2 separate regions of the Homo sapiens genome follow, and region 1 is linked to region 2. The links come from fine-mapping of genetic effects on gene expression. A gene starts in region 2. The other region holds a variant in brackets. All regions are shown on one strand. Distances are between the middles of the regions.

What was found. PIP is the estimated chance that this variant, and not a neighbour inherited with it, causes the effect.
Region 1: its variant is the best candidate, but not a certain one, in a credible set for the expression of TP73 in testis (GTEx, PIP 0.72).

Annotation. Positions count from the first base shown.
Region 1 is chr1:3,734,632-3,739,958 of GRCh38, reverse strand. It overlaps TP73 (tumor protein p73), which reads right to left. Exons shown (of 14, transcript NM_005427.4): 14 at 3,758-5,327. It also overlaps the pseudogene GFOD3P. Among named protein-coding and RNA genes, the nearest start is that of CCDC27, 15 kb to the left of the region's middle. The variant A/G (reference allele first, on the strand shown) is at 3,097.
Region 2 is chr1:3,650,135-3,655,439 of GRCh38, reverse strand. TP73 (tumor protein p73) reads right to left here and starts at 2,924. Exons shown (of 14, transcript NM_005427.4): 1 at 2,799-2,924. RefSeq lists a silencer at 2,364-3,313 and an enhancer at 4,273-5,116.

The sequences.
Region 1 (5,327 bases), 85 kb before region 2:
GCGGGTTAGATAGAGATCATCAGCCGGGTTGATTGTGCGGGTTAGATAGAGGTCATCAGCTGGGTTGATTGTGTGGGTTAGATAGAGATCATCAGCTGGGTTGATTGTGTGGGTTAGATAGAGGTCGTCAGCTGGGTTGATTGTGCGGGTTAGATAGAGGTCATCAGCCGGGTTGATTCTACAGGTTAGATAGAGGTCATCAGCTGGGTTGATTGTGCGGGTTAGAGATCATCAGCCGGGTTGATTGTGCGGGTTAGATAGAGGTCATCAGCCGGGTTGATTGTGCGGGTTAGATAGAGATCATCAGCTGGGTTGATTCTGCAGGTTAGATAGAGGTCATCAGCTGGGTTGACTATGTGGGTTAGATAGAGGTCGTCAGCCGGGTTGATTGTGTGGGTTAGACAGAGGTCATCAGCTGGGTTGATTCTGCGGGTTAGATAGAGGTCATCAGCTGGGTTGATTGTGTGGGTTAGATAGAGATCATCAGCTGGGTTGATTGTGTGGGTTAGATAGAGGTCATCAGCTGGGTTGATTGTGTGGGTTAGATAGAGGTCATCAGCTGGGTTGATTGTGTGGGTTAGATAGAGGTCATCAGCTGGGTTGATTGTGTGGGTTAGATAGAGGTCATCAGCTGGGTTGATTGTATGGGTTAGATAGAGGTCATCAGCTGGGTTGATTGTACGGGTTAGATAGAGGTCGTCAGCCGGGTTGATTCCGCAGGTTAGATAGAGGTCGTTAGCTGGGTGTGTGGGTCCCAAGGCGTGCTGCAGATGGAGAATCAGAATTCCTTGGGCATCACCGGGCGGGGCATGTCCCTGTCCCTTCGCTCCCAGACCCAGGCTAGCCGCTACCAGGACTCCTATCGAGAGCTCTTCAGACACTTTGTCAGAACCCTTAAAGGTGGGTGACGTTTTCAGGAGGAACCTGGGATGTCCTGATGCTCAATGGGTAGATGCCTTCCAGGCTGCAGTCAGTGCAGATGATATGCCAATTTCAGGTGGAAAATTGCATTCCAGATACCGGGTTCAGATTTGAAATTGTCCATCTCAGTGATCATTTACGTTGCGTGTACTTGAGGGAGATTCTGAGAGATGCTCCTTTGGGGTTCTGTGCGTGTACCATGTTGCCTGACACGTCCTGAGAAATCTTCTTAAACTCTGAGTTTATAAAATAACTACTTCTGAACTCCTGAGATCTAGTGGATACCATGTATCCTGGAAGATAGGACACTTTCTACCCTCTGTCAGTCCTGGGGGTGACTGGGAACCAGAGAGGTTGAGCAGAATTCCTGGACCTGGGTGGGGCTTGTCCAAGAGGGGCAGGTGGGCCTCTCTAGGATCAGTGTCCCACCCAGAGGCCAGTGGCCCCTTCACATGCCCCAACAAGAGGAAGACTGTCTGGCTCCGCAGTGTTGGGTTTTGTCCTGAATCTGTGCAAATGTGCAGGGAAATAACCTCCTGAAATCACCAAAGAGCAGTTCCTCAGGGCCTTCCGGGTGACCGTGGCCGTGGAGCAGTCGTGGTGAAACCGGTCAGCTGTGGACCTGCCCTGCGAATCGGCAGAGGCCTCCGTGGTGAAGACAGAAGCTCCGTGAACCAACTCGAGGCTGGAGCCAAGATCCTGCCTGATATCCAGTTGCCTGTTTCACTTGTTACTGTTACTGGGAGAGGGAGACAAAACCTCATGGCAATCTTGTCCTCACTGGAGACTCAGAAGGGGAAGCATTGGGAAACCATGTATGTTTCATTTCTGGTTTAACCAGGCTTTTCAGGATGGGACTTCAGACCAAGGACACAAGTTGGGCTTGCTTAGGTGTTTTGTGTTGTGCGCAGGCCTCAGAGATGCTCTTCCGGTCAGAGTTCCCTTGGCAGGGCCTTGGAGGCCTCTGGTTGGCTCTCTCAGGAAGAGGGCAGGTCAGGGATTGGGCGGTGTAAATTGACTCAGAAACCTGCGGTTTCAGCTTTTCTGTGGCAAACAGGGCCGAGGGCTGGTGAAGCTGTTAAGGCTAAATGTCGCATGCATGAGGCGGGCTGCAGGCCTCCTTAGGCCTTTTTTGGGGTAATTACACCAGTATTTAAAAACATTTTTTTTTGTTTGTTTTGAGATGGAGTCTTGCCCTGTCACCCAGGCTGGAGTGCAATGGTGCGATCTCGGCTCACTGCAACCTCCGTCTCCCAGGTTCAAGCGATTCTTCTGCCTCAGCCTTCTGAGTAGCTGGGATTACACGCGTGTGCCACCACGCTCGGCTAATTTTTGTATTTTTAGTAGAGATGGGATTTCACCATGTTGGCCAGGCTGGTCTCGAACTACTGACCTCGTGATCCACCTGCCATGGCCTCCCAAAGTGCTGGGATTACAGGCGTGAGCCACCATGCTCGGCCTAAAAAACAATTTTCTTGAAGAATCCGATTTTGTGCATAGTAATGACACAGCACCATTCCTGAGAAATAGGAAATATATGTGTGTGGTATGAAAAGCCCATATTCTGTTCTTGTCACCTGAATCTAGGCTTCCTCTTTGGATGTGAACGCGGGAATGAACAGTGGCTGTTTTCCACCCAAAGGGGCGTGGAGACCTTTTGGAAACGGGCTTTCTCCTTTCCATTTTGCAGCCGGGGGCGGGTGGAAACCTTCCTTCGAAGGGTAGTGCCTTGGGGAGCAGCAGACCTGCTCTGAGTCCAGCTTAGCTTTCCAAAATTCTGTGTGGAACTTACTGGAGATGTTTTTATATATTTGAAAATAATGGCCTGTATTTCTCACGCTATACTTAAAAAAAATAACTAACCTTTTAAACAAAGATATTCAAACTCACCCTTGTGCTGAAAGCACTCACATTTCTGTGTTCATTCCTGAAAGGGCGTTTTAGAGTCCCCGTTTCTACGTTCTATGTGGCACCCTCTTGCCGAGGGAACATCCAGAATCCCTCCACTTCCTGTCTAGTTTGAGGCCTCAACACCTTCATGATCCAGAGTCCTGCGGCTATGAGGGGGTGGGCCCACCACCGCCCAGCCCTCCTTGGTGGACGTGGGGACAGGTAGGAGCCTAGGGAAAGGGGTGGGCGGGCTCTGGTGTGACGGCGTGAGCGCTAGCCAGGAAG[A/G]TGGGGCCAGGGCTTGGCATGGCACCTCACCTGTGGGGGAACTCGGCGGAGCTTCCTGGCGGCATCTCCCCCTCTTGCCTTGGTCCTTTCTATCTTTGTTTTAGGCCAATTTCTAAAAAGACTGAGGCCTCCTTCAAGGTTGAACAGATTTCTAGAGCCTTGTTTTTGCTGTGACAAGTCCCTAGTCCCTGTTCACAACTCTGAAACCAAGAAACCTGAGAACCAAGAGAACTGAAATGAAGCCCGTTGGTCTCAGCCTGGCTTGAGCCAACATGAGGCTCTCTGCTGCCTTTTGTTTTCTTAGGTTTTGCTGAGAAACGGGAGTGCGTTCTGTGTCGGTGTTTGTGACGCCCTGAGACCCTGCTTGGCCTAGCTAAAGTCCAGAAGGCCTGGGCCCCACAGGGCTTGGATGAGGGCTCATGGGCCTGTACTTCAGGAGGCCTGAGAGGCCCGGTCAGTCCCATGAGGCTACTCGGCTTGGCCCGCAGGTCCTCCGAGGCACAGGGCAGAGGGACACCCCAGGGACCCATCAGACTCACGACACAGAGAAACTCAAGTGGGGTGCCAGGGCCGGCCACAGAGGCCACGGGCTTCCTGCCTGTGAGGAGCCGCCCTGTTTGTCTGAGCCCTTTGGAGATTTAGGTTGAGTCATGAGAACCGGTCATTGGAACATACACTTTATTATGTTACAAAAACAAAAATCCCCACTGAAACACAGCTAAAAAAATAACACATTTTCCCAAGATTACATTACCAAAAACAGTTGTTATGTCATTGGAGGGCGTCCATTAATACTGCTCGGAGAAGCACGATCTTACACGAAAAACACGGATGGGATTTCGTTTTCACCTTAAAGCATTAAAGTGCTTTAACTGGTAACAGAGGAGTGGATGTTTGTGCGTTGGAGACACTGACTGTTCTGAGTGACAAGTGGCTCTGTGCCAGGATACTGCGGGTCGGGCTCCTGGGTACAGCAAGGGCTTCCCAGCAGCCCAGGCCTGGTGGGAACGCTGGGGGAATGGGGGAGAGTCGCTGTTTCTGACCAGAGCGACTTGGACAGATGTGAGCTGACCTGCCTGGCGAGCTCCTTCTGCCTTGCCTCTCTGAGCAGACTCAGGACCACTGCCTGTCCCCCTTGGCCCCAGGAGTGCCAGCAGCCTCCCTCCAACCCCTGCACTGCTGGGAAAACCATCCGCCTTCAAGATTTATTTGTTGATTTGTTTAGTTTTATAAAAACATATCACTTAAAGGATTCTTGTTCCTGGGAATTTGCATTTTCTCCTGACCACGGCGAAGTCTCAACTCTGTCTACTTTCACAGCTGCTTCTCCAGTGCAAGGAGGCTGCATGGGCTCCCTAGACAGGTGCAGCTGGGGCCATCTGGCTGCTCCGTGTTCTGGCCGGCTTCCTTGGACATCTGGCTGGGGTTCCAGTGACAGCTGCCCCTGGGCCTCTCCCAGCCCCCCCAGCCCCCCCAGCCCTTCCCAGGAGCACACTACAGGGGCTCTTGGGACAGCCTCACTGGACTCAGGGTGGACAGGTAACGTACCTAAGAAACAAATCAACAAGCCCTCTGGAACTGAAGCACATCTGCGCTGGGCTGAGGAACCCCGGGTGTCAGGATGGGCCCCCGCGGCTCCTGAAGTGGAACATGGGGGAAGAGTGGGGGCTTCAGGAGGTGGCCTCGGGTAGCAGGTGCCCAGCCCCCAAGAGATGGGTGTGGTGCCTGGGGCATGGGTCTTAGCCTTTCTGGTCTCAGCTTCCTCATCTACAAAATGGCAATAAGATGGAGAGCTGAGGTGACATGCAGCTGGGGTGGCTGCGCCACCCTGGGAAAGCCCCGAGTCTGCTGCTGCTGCCGCTACTGACTGATGCCCTGGGCGTGGGCACCTTTCTAGGGAGATGGAACCCTAGAAGCTAAGCGGCCAGAGCTTCCTGCCCTTCAGCTGGAAGGAGCCGGAAGGAGCTGGAAGGAAGGGCCAGGCCCTCGCCCTGGCTGCAGCCAGATCCCCTGAGAGCCGACAGCCCCGTTCCTGCTGCCCCCACAAGCGTGCACCCAGGCGACTGTGCTGTCAGCGGCCCCCGGGGAGGTGGACGGTGGGAGAGGGATGCCTGCGTCTTCGTAGACCAGGTACCTGCGGCAACACCAGTCGCTGCTTTTAAATAAGGGGAGGCTGGTGACGGTGATGCCACTTAGCAAGATGGAGTCCTGATCTGGGGATGGGGGCTGTG
Region 2 (5,305 bases):
TGGCAGCTCGTTACATGAAACACACACCAAAAGTATTTTTTGCGTGTTTTTTTGAGACAGAGTCTCGCTCTGTTGCCCGGGCTGGAGTGCAGTGGGGTGATCTCGGCTCACTGCAACCTCTGCCTCCCAAGTTCAAGCGATTCTCCTGCCTCAGCCTCCTGAGTAGCTGAGACTACAGGCACCAGACACCACCCCCGGCTAATTTTTGTATTTTTGGTGGGGACAAGATTTCACCATTTTGCCCAGGCTGGTCTTGAACTCCTGATCTCAAGTGATCCACCCACCTCGGCCTCCCAAAGGGCTGAGATTACAGGCGTGGGCCACGGCGCCTGGCCTTAAAGGATGTTTTGAAGACTTTTTCTGACTTTTTGCAAACACAGGGTTCACCGTGTACGCGATGTCACTTTGGTGTGCTCGGAATCTCAGGGTTAATACCGCCGCTGGGCAAGGGCAGGGCCTCGTCCGGGTTCTGGAGTGGGTGTGCGGCTCCTCTCTCGGCCCTCAGCCTCTTCTCTTCTCTCCACTTTAGCCGTGCCTTTCACACGTGCTCAGTGTTATCAATCCATTCTTGGACCTGGGTGGGGCATGCCCTATAAATAAATACTAAACCAGGCATCCTTGCCCCAGTGCATACTTCTGACAGATGCCATCAGCTTCCACCCACGCCTTGGGCAGATGCCTGCCTCACTGCCATCCCTCCTGCCCTGGAGATACCTACCAGATACTAAGGAGCCGGGTCTCTCCCCAGGGCTCCTGGCTCTCCCAGCTCTGGAACAGCACCTGGGACCCGAAGCCATCATGTGTGAGGACACTGAGTGGGTGCCAGGCACTCTCCCAAGCCCTTCGGACGGCACCTCACTGACTGTTCTCCAAGCCTCTGAGGCAGGAACTACTATTACCCGACTCTGCAGATGGGTAACCTGAGGCTCCAAGTGGTTAAGTGACTTGCTGGAGTAAATGGGGAAGAGGAGATTTGAACCCCAGCATTCTGACTTCCATACTACCCCATTAACCACTGTGCCAGACCAGCTTCTCCATGCGACTGGCCTTCGGGATTTGGAGACAGCTACTGTTCGCTGTAGCTTTCACGAGAAGGACTGCAAGGCAGGGCTCACATCCCGAGCCATTCTCTGGTGGCCGCCGCGCATAGACAAGCCCCGCTCAGGTCCGCCTTCCGTTCACCCCAGGCTACCTCTGATTGACAATAGGCAGCTGCCACACTGCAGCCTCTGACACCAACTTTTATCTTATTTCATCTTATTTTTTGAGACAGAGTCTTGCTCTGTTGCCCAGGCTGGAGTGCAGTGGCATGATATCAGCTCGCTGCAACCTCTCCATCCCAGGTTCAAGCAATTCTTGTGCCTCAGCCTCCCGAGTAGCTGGGAGTACAGGTGCCTGCCACCATGCCCAGCTAATTTTTGTATTTCAAGTAGAGACTGGGTTTCACCATGATGGCCAGGCTGGTCTCGAACTCCTGACCTCAGGTGATCCACCCACCTTGGCCTCCCAAAGGCTGTGAGGGATGACAGGCGTGAGCTACCGTGCCCAGCCAACTTTTTATCTTATTTTAAAAACTACATACGTAATGCATACATTCATATATGGCAACATTTCAAACACCGTGTCCTGTTCTTAATGAAATGCTTTTTAATCTTTCCCCGAATAAATCCAAAGAGGGGTGGCTCAGCGCTCAGTAAGTGCCAGAGGCCACGCGCTTTGTTTACTCCTCCCCCAGAGCTAAGGCTGAACAAATAAACAGCAATGACAGCAACAAAAAACAAAACAACAAAAACCAAAGCATTGTGTTAATGAGCCTGAGCCATTTCCAAATGTCCAGACAGTGAATAAACAGATGGCAGCATCTTTGGAAGCAAATGACCTCTGGTCAGAAGTTTGGGGTGCATTGCTTTTCCCTGCACCCTTGCTGGTTGAAGATCGTCTATCTGTCCCCTGTTTATGTAGCAGACGTGTGCATACTACATGGGCTTATCTCCTAGCGTCCAGGCCAAAATACAAGCTGAGCAAAGGTAATCATCGCTCCCCAAGTCCAAGCCCCGGGAAAGGCAGGGGCTGCAGGAGGAGGCGGCCCAGGAGCTAAGGGGGCGTGAGGTGTCTCCCTCCAGGCCGGCCCGGGCCATTTCTTCACGGGCTTTCTCTACCTGGGACCGCTCCGGAGACAGGCCAGGAGCCCTCGACAGACAAACTCAGAGCCACAGGGAGCTGTCCCTCGGGAAACCATCGAAACCGCTTAGTAACCAACTCCATGGGTCAAGGCCCCCGCCCAGATCCTTCTCCCTGTCCAGAGGGGGGCCTGGCCCTGGCTCCTCAGGGAAGCTGAGGCCTCGGGATTGGCACAGCCCTGCAGGTCGGAGGGAGCGCGCGGGCGGGGAGGAGCTTGCTGGCGATTTCCACCTGCACCCGCGCCCCGCACCCCGGCCTCTTCCCGGGGTTACCCTCCCAACGGCCCTCGGAGCCCGGGGTGGAGAGGGGACAGCAGGAGGAGGGCCCTCCCGGAACCCCTGCGGGGCTGTCTTTGGCGCCAAAGGCGGCCGGCGCTGAGGGCAGGACCCGCGTCTCCTCGCAGGCTAGACTCTGGCCGCTCCAGCCTCTCGCGAGCGCCAAGTCCCAGGGGCCGATCCAACTCCGAGGGAGCCCCTGTGTCGCCTTGTCCCAGCTCGTCCCCGATCGCTCTCCCCTCACCTCCCAGCTTCGGAGCTGCGAGCCCAGGTGCCTGCCCAGCGCTGCGCTCCAGCCCCCGCCCGCGGAGCCGAACCGCCCCCCGGCCCTGGGCCTCCTACCTGCAGCCGTCGCAGCCCCGGGCATCGGCGTCCGTCCCGGCTGGCCTGGCGCGGGCCCCGGTTTCGCTGCGTCCCCTTCGCGGGCGCGCGAGCCTCCGGGCGGGTGCGCGGGCGGGGAGGCAGGGCGGGCTGCCCGGCCCCTAGGCGGGTTATATGGGCGCGGGGAGGGGAGGCGCCGCGGGGAGTAGGCGGCCGCGGGCGTTAGCGCCTTTTTAGCCCGGCGCGCGGGAAGGCAGCGCGGGCCACCGAGTCGCGGCGGGGCCAAGGTCTCCTCCCGGCGCTCCGCCTCTCCAGCTGGCCGCGTCCAAGTCGGGGTCCCGGGCGCGCTCTGCCCCGCCTCCTTCCCGCCGCCTTTTGGCGCGCGTCGCTCCTGCAGAGCCCGGCGAGGCCGCCCACGCAGGGCCGAAGCAGGTCCGGCGCCAGGGCCCCTCCCGCGGGCCAGACCCGACCGCGATCTTCGGCAGAGCTGGGGACGCCGGTGCCGACTCTGTGCCCGACGCCTGCGTTTCCCCCGGACTCCCTGCTGTCCCCCAGACGGCCCATCTTTCCTGACACCCGGGTCTCTCCTGGCCGCCGCCACTAGCGCTGGGCTCCTCGGCGCGCGGGGCGCTTGGAATCCAAGGGGCAGGGGATGTGGCCGGCGGGGAACAGGGGTGAGGGGCGGGGAACAGGGGTGAGGGGCGCCGCCCCAGGCCCAGGAGGAGGGGAACGGCTGCTTTCCGCCAAGCAGGGCTTGCCACCCACTTCTCCTGTGGAGCCACGGTCCCGCCCGGCAGAGGATCCCGCGGAGAGCCTCTGGGGGCTGCTCTCCCAACCCCAGCCGGAGTTTGGGCCCCACGTCCTTCCAGGGGTCACCCAGGACGCGAACACTCCCGGGCGGCGGCCAGCACCCTGCTCCCTCCCCCGGCCGCCGCCTGTGGGCTCGGGCTCTGGATCCCGTTCGGTGTTTGGAAGGAGCTCGCGGGCGTCGGTGCGCTTGGAGTTGTTCTCTGCGCGCACCAGACCTGCGCTAGGTCAGGCCGAAGCTCTCTACCGGCCAGCGACACCCGCCGCCCCGCCCGCCTGCTCCTCCTAGGCCATCGGGGCTTCCAGGGCCCTCGACCACGTACACCAGGCCCTGGCTAGGGGACCCGACATGCTGGGCGAGTTCCGAGCGGCTCTCAGTGGCGGCGCTGCTTATGGTCTGATGCTTATGGGGCCCGTGATCTGGCTCCGAACCGATGTCCTCTGCCCATGGTGACCCCCACGTCTTGGAAAGTCGCGTCAGTGAAGCCCGTGGCTTCGCGAGCGAGCCGGGCTGGCGCAGACTGGGTTCTCTGGCCGCAGCGGGTCCGCGCCTGACGGGGAGGGTCCGGCTGACTCGCACATCTTCATGGCTCACCCACTGTTTGCTGGGCGCACGGGGTGGGGACCCAAAGACGAATCCCATGCAGAGGTTTGGGTCTAGTTTTGGCAACAGAAAAGGCCGGCACCGCCGGAGTAGGACGCGCGCGCACCACCATCCATTCGGCCGGGGAGGTTGGGGCGTCCGCGGGGAGCAGACCCGAGGCTGGGCGCCCGGAGGTACGAGCAGGACCCTGGCCGGCTCTCAGCTCCCAGAACCCAGGGCCAGGCGGGGATGTCAGGGTCTGCGCGATCTGGGGGGCCCTAGAGGCGCCGGCGGGGCCTGGCGCGGACTACTAGCGGCCTGCGGGAGCCAGGGGTGGAGGGGGCCGCTGTCTAGGGAAGAGGACCGGGGTCCGGAGTGGGGGTGAGAACGAGGCACGCCCCTGAGCCTGCGAAACCTGCGGACCGAGCGCCCGCGCAGGAGCTCGCTCCCTCTGGGCCCCCAGGTCCCAGACCCGCACGATTCTTCGCCCGGTGCCAGCCCAGATGCGCGCGGGTGATGAACGGGCGGTGGCCGCGATCCACGCGCTCGCTCTGCCCAGTCAGCGGCAAATTCGTTCTCTCCTTGATCTCAGTGGCACTGGAGCGTGAGGCAAGGGCCAGGCGGCAGGTAGAGGGGTCGGACTCAGCAAAAGCAAACAAAACCCCAAGCAAACGAAATAAATACTTATACATTACATACACGATATAATATATGTGCGACAGACACCGTATTACTTATTAAAGATATATTTGTAGGTAAACATATATTTACATGTAAACATACATTTACATATAAATATAAATATATATATATGCATGTGTACACACACGCAGACACACAGGTCGCTCAATTAAATTTGAATTTCAGACTAGCGAGTAATTTTTCCGTATTAGCATGTCCCGTGCAATATTTGGGAACATACTTATAACTAGATTTGTTGTGAATCTGAAATTCAAATTTTACTGTGCTTTCTACATTTTTATCAGCAGCCCTAGCTGGAGGTGCTCAAAGGCCTCCCGGCCTTTGAGGTAAGGTTCTCGGGTCGGAAATCCCTGGTCGGAAGAAACGTGGGCGTTTCCTTTAAAGCCCTGCGGCACAAGAACTACAAGCCCCACAATGCCGCGCGGAAGCCGGCGGC